Regions from separate parts of the Homo sapiens genome. Here region 1 is linked to region 2. Evidence: fine-mapped expression QTL. A gene starts in region 2. The other region holds a variant in brackets. All regions are shown on one strand. Distances are from middle to middle. Region 1 has its middle 160 kb from the start of MIR8065. Region 2 holds the start of NAGPA (N-acetylglucosamine-1-phosphodiester alpha-N-acetylglucosaminidase).

What was found. PIP is the estimated chance that this variant, and not a neighbour inherited with it, causes the effect.
Region 1: its variant is fine-mapped to the expression of NAGPA in monocytes after LPS (Fairfax 2014, PIP 0.95).

What each region holds. Positions count from the first base shown.
Region 1 is chr16:5,793,633-5,796,542 of GRCh38, reverse strand. It overlaps a transcript of RBFOX1 not described here. Among named protein-coding and RNA genes, the nearest start is that of MIR8065, 160 kb to the right of the region's middle. RefSeq lists an enhancer at 354-881. The variant G/T (reference allele first, on the strand shown) is at 1,634.
Region 2 is chr16:5,032,598-5,035,507 of GRCh38, reverse strand. It overlaps NAGPA (N-acetylglucosamine-1-phosphodiester alpha-N-acetylglucosaminidase), which reads left to right and starts at 1,573. Exons shown (of 10, transcript NM_016256.4): 1 at 1,573-1,679; 2 at 1,780-2,235. The coding sequence starts at 1,594. It overlaps NAGPA-AS1 (NAGPA antisense RNA 1), which reads right to left and starts at 1,806. Exons shown (of 2, transcript NR_038913.1): 1 at 1,447-1,806. RefSeq lists enhancers at 1,462-1,641, 1,835-2,336.

The sequences.
Region 1 (2,910 bases), 760 kb before region 2:
AGCCCTGCTTCATCCCTGGGATCCAGCTCATTCCATCCCATCTTGGAAATGTCATCTATGATGCCACCACCACTCCTGTTCCTCTCTCTGACCCCATGTGATGCTTTTGAGGCCACTGATCATATCACAAACCCTGGATACTTGATCACTGTGGATATATTTGGTCCAGATCCTGGATTGAGCAACTCATTCCTGATTCCTTGCTCGTGGCCATAGCTTGGCAAAAACTGCCTCTTTCCCATAACATGTTTCCTTCTTCCATGCTCCAGATTTCACCCATGTGGGCCACATCCACTTCCTTCCAGATCCAGATCTGTGCATTTCAGAACCCAGCCTCAGAAGTGGGTGGATCCACTTGACATCAGGGTTTTACTATTCCTGAGCCCAGTCTTGAGCTGCTTATGACCTTCCAAAACAGCTCACCAAAATTCAACCATGCCTTCACAAAGTGACAGAAGTCCTCCCTTCCCCCAATCTACAAGCTGAAAATGCACTAGATTCAACTGCTATGGAAATCTACAATGCATTGCACAGCCCTATGCAAATGGGAAAACCCAACTGTACTGCCAAAGTCTTTGAAAAGGTGGGGACTATTGATGCAACTGGTGAGTGTTGTCGACCTATCTCCAGTAGAGCAAACAAAAGAACTAAGTCATTAGAAAATGCAACAGAGACTGTGAGGCTCTAATGGCTTTGCAAATCAGTGAAAAAAAGCAAATCCTTCCCCAATGAATGTAAACAGAAGGGGAGAATGGGATTGTTTATCTTCCAGGTCTAAAGTCAAAAGTTAGGAGGGATATATGAATGTATATAATGGGGGAAATGGATCTATTTAGGAGGCCAGAGAAGGCTTCTTGAAGAAATGATATTTGAGTTAGGATTTGGAAGAAGAGTGGTCAGGGGTAAGGAGGGGAAAGAATTCCAGGTCAAGGAAACAACATATTGAAGACCAGGCTAGGCACAGTGGTTCATGTCTGTAATCCTAGCACTTTGGGAGGCCAAGGCAGGAGGATTGTTTGAGCCCAGGAATTCACAACCATAGCAATACCCCATCTCCACAAAAAATTAAAAATTTAGCCACGCACGGTGGTAGGTGCCTGTGGTCCCACTACTCGGGAGGCTGAGGCAGGAGGATCACTTGAGCCCAGAAGATTGACACAGCAATGAGCCATGATCTCGCCACTGCACTCCAGCCAGGGTAACAGAGTAAGACCTTGTTTCAAGAAAAAAAAAAAGAAGAAGGAAGAAGTGGAAGACAATAAGGTGGAACAGATCTTGGTCCTTAACAGGAACCAAGTGTCACTGGGCATAGTAATAGGGAGAGGGGGGATATGAAACTGACGTAGAATCATTTCTTGACATTTATGGGTTAGGCCTTTCGTGAGGTGTTTCAGATCCATCGCTACTGATCTACAGAAACAATATAATAAGGTAGGTATTTCTTTTCCCATTCTCCACATGAGAAACTGAGATGGAATAATTTAAGCAGCTTGGCCAAAGTCATACAACTGGGGAGAAGAAAAGTTAGATTTTGAGCCAAGGCATGTTGGCTTGAATGTGACTCCTTCTCAAGACCCAGTGAGATGAGAGTGGGTGTGTGCCTGGGGAATTCCACAGACAGTGTGTAGACTGG[G/T]ATCCCATGTGATGGGGTAGCTTCCATCTTGCCGAATGTCGCCATAGTAGGATTGCAGCCTCTTGGCGGCTAATACATAAGAGATGCCACTAGCCTCTGCCTAGATTTAATATTGGTTTAGCAGTCAGGAGTTAATTAAATGTTAATGTTCAGTCACTTGAAATTAAACATTAGGAACCTCAGCTTTATTTGTAAGTTTCTTAAGCCATCATTAAGGTGTTCTTCTTGGCTCCCCTCCTGCTGGGCCGCCCGACTCCTCCAGCTGCATCCCCCATCCACAGGCAAACTCATTTTGCTCACCACATGCCTTGACACACAACATCTGACCTGCCCGACAGCTATACCTCTCCAATGAGCAAATCTGAAAGGCTGCACACACCACACACACACACACACACGCACGCTGGCATTGAGTTTCACATAAGGTGAGTGTGCCTCTGGTATCACAGACATTTTGGTGTTTGTAATATTTTATAGATCACACAGTGCTTTCAGGTACATAATTGAATTTGGCCTCATAATGAGATGAAGGCAATGATGATAATAATGATGGAAGAGGACGAGGAATTAGTAAAGGATGAGGAAAAAAAGGAGGTGAAGGTGAAGATGGAAGGGAAGGTGAAGGAGGGAAACAAAGAGGAGGAAGAGAAGGAAAAAGAAAGGGGAAGAAGGACCATTTTGTAAGTGTTTTCTGTACGTTTCCATGCAATGCTCAGTATAACCCCATGACTTAGAGATTGTTACTGTGCTCACTTTACGGATAAAGAAAAAGCCCCAAGAGATTAAATCATATGCCCAACACCACAGATGTACTGGAATTAAATGTCAAGGTCGAGGCTCCAAATGCTCATTCCCTTAACCACAAATGACCACAGAAATGCAAAAAAGTGAAGTTCAGATCAGTTAAGAGGTTTGTCCAACACCTTGCAGTTTCATGATTTTACATATTAACTCTCCCAAAAAATGAAGCACAGAGAGCTTAAATGGCTCACCCAAGATCACACAGGTTTATAATGTGAGGATCAGGGAGAACGTGCTGGATTCCAGTCTCCCAGTACATTTGTGAGTATGTGCAAATGAACACTTGCACATGCACGCATGCAATGCACACTCACACACACATGCACATGCACATACACACATGCATGCATGCACACACACACACGAAGGCACATGTACATAGATCCAGGCTCCCTCCCAGCCTGGAAAGTCTCCCAATGGGGTGACCAGTCTGGGCCCTCCAGCATCCCCTGCAAGTACCGGGTTCCTCACTGCTT
Region 2 (2,910 bases):
AAAACAAACCCACAGTTACACAAACAAGAGAAGCAGCGATTTGCACTTGCCTAGAGACATACCCACAGCTGCATAACATAAGGGGAGCTGCACAGGCAGTTTTACTGGTAAGAAGTTACTCAGTTACCAGGAGGAGAGCAGTGTCCTATAAAAGTTTTTTGCGGCCAGGCACAGTGGCTCACGCCTGTAATCCCAGCACTTTGGGAGGCGGAAGGAGGCGGATCACCTGAGGTCAGGAGTTTGAAACCAGCCTGGCCAACATGGTAAAATTTCGTCTCTACCCAAAATACAAAAATTAGCAGGGCGCAGTGACGTGTGCCTGTAATCCCAGCTACTCGGGAGGCTGAGGCAGGAGAATCATTTGAACCCAGGAGGCAGAGGTTGTTGAGGTTGCAGTGAGCCAAGATCGCACCATTGCACTCCAGCCTGGGTGACAAGAGCAAAACTCTGTCTTAAAAAAAAAAAAAAAAAAAGCTTTTTGCATTCAGCTGTAACCCGACAATCCACTCGGACTCCCGTCTCCACTTTGGAGAGCTTTCTTCTTTCCCTTATTAAACGTTCGCTCCAACCCCACCCTTGTGTCCACGCTCCTTAGTTTTCTTGGAGGTAGGACAAAGAACCCCGGGACTAGTTCAGACAAGGAGAAACTGCTATATTAAGGTGCACTGGCAAGACCGCAACAGTATCAAGCCAATTAGACTTGCCGTGGCTCCTGGAATGGCCCACGCACTGCACTGGCACCAAGACACCACCCAACCCTGGACACTGCACTGGGACAGGAGGCCTGAAGAGAAGAATCCTCTCAAAGGAAGCTTGAAGTACATGCTACAAAATAAACTGGCTTCTATACTCAGGGCCAGCTTCATGGGCTCACTCAGAAGGTCCCTGGCTTGCTGCAACCATTTGCTCTGACCATCTTGAAATTCTTAATAGTTTTCTGGGTTTTTTAGTAAGTGTCCCCACGTTTTCATTTTGCATTGAGTCACACAAATCATGTAGCTGGGCTGTCTTCAAAAATGTCAAGGTAGTAAAAGACAAAAGGCTGAGGAGCCTTCCAGATGAAGAGATCAAAGAGACATGACAACTAAAAGCAACTCCTGGGTTACAGGGTCAGGGGCGGACAAAAAGGAAAAGAAAAAAAAAGACATTAGAGGGACAATTGAAGGTTAGCTGTGGATGACATCACAGAAATGTCAATGGGAGTTGTCCTAATGATATTTGCCCTGTGGTTAAGAAAATGCCCTTGTTCTTAGGAGATTCATGGCGAGGTATGGGGTAAAGGATCATGACATCTGCAATTTGGTTGCCATTGGTTCAGGAAAAAAAAAAAACAAAGTACAAATGATTGAGTAAATCAGGCAAGCCTAAACCACTGCTAAACATGAATAACAGTTCTACGAGAGTTCTTTATGCTCTCCTTGCAACTTCCTGTAGGTTTGAGATTACCTGGAGATAAAAAGTTAACATCACCAGCACCGCCCGCCAGCCCGCCAGCCGAAAAGAGCGCAGGTAATTCAGTCCGAGCTGAAAGCGGCCACCCTGGGACTTGAGTCACGTGAGGCGAGCCCACATGACCCGAGGCCCCGGTCCAATATGGCGACCTCCACGGGTCGCTGGCTTCTCCTCCGGCTTGCACTATTCGGCTTCCTCTGGGAAGCGTCCGGCGGCCTCGACTCGGGGTGAGTGCAGCTCCCTGGGCCAGCCTGGTTCGGGGGGTCCCCCCTGTCCTCCGAGCTCACGAGGACAGCCCCCTGAGCTCACGGCCGCCCGTCCCCGCAGGGCCTCCCGCGACGACGACTTGCTACTGCCCTATCCACGCGCGCGCGCGCGCCTCCCCCGGGACTGCACACGGGTGCGCGCCGGCAACCGCGAGCACGAGAGTTGGCCTCCGCCTCCCGCGACTCCCGGCGCCGGCGGTCTGGCCGTGCGCACCTTCGTGTCGCACTTCAGGGACCGCGCGGTGGCCGGCCACCTGACGCGGGCCGTTGAGCCCCTGCGCACCTTCTCGGTGCTGGAGCCCGGTGGACCCGGCGGCTGCGCGGCGAGACGACGCGCCACCGTGGAGGAGACGGCGCGGGCGGCCGACTGCCGTGTCGCCCAGAACGGCGGCTTCTTCCGCATGAACTCGGGCGAGTGCCTGGGGAACGTGGTGAGCGACGAGCGGCGGGTGAGCAGCTCCGGGGGGCTGCAGAACGCGCAGTTCGGGATCCGCCGCGACGGGACCCTGGTCACCGGGTGAGGAGGCAGGGAGCCCCGTGCTGTCGAGGGCAGAGGGCCTGAGATTTGGGTTGTAGCCGTGCCTCCGTGTTCAAGTCACTTAACCAAGCTGAGCCCCTGTTTCCTCCTCTGCAGAATGGGGATAGGAATCGCTTCCTTGCAGAGTTTATTCATCATCCAGTATCATTGAGCACTTGCTTGTATCAGGCAATGTGCCGCGCCCCGGTGAGATAGCCGTGAACAACACAGTCTTTGCCTTAACAGCCCTCCCCCATTACTAGAAAAATCAACAAAAGCCGGGTAAATAGCTAACATACATTCTGATTGCTGTGTGTGCAGCAAAGCAACCAACGGGGTGAACCCGTTGTAAATAGTGTTGATTTTAGGGAGGGTGATCTGGAACACGCCTCTCCGAGGTGACCTTTGAGTGGGAACTTGAAGATGAATCACTAAGTGAGCCAAGGTCAGAACTGGAGGAAGAGCGTTTCAGTCCAAAGGAACCCCACGCACAAAGGCTCAGAGGCTCAGGGGGGCTTGTGTGTATGAGGGACTGAAAAAGGAGTGGGGTGTCAGAAACATCAACTCATCAAGACTGATGATTTTTTTTTTTTTGAGACAGAGTCTTGCTCTGTTGCCCAGGATGGAGGGCAGTGGCATGATACCGGCTCACTGCAACCTCTGCCTCCCGGGTTC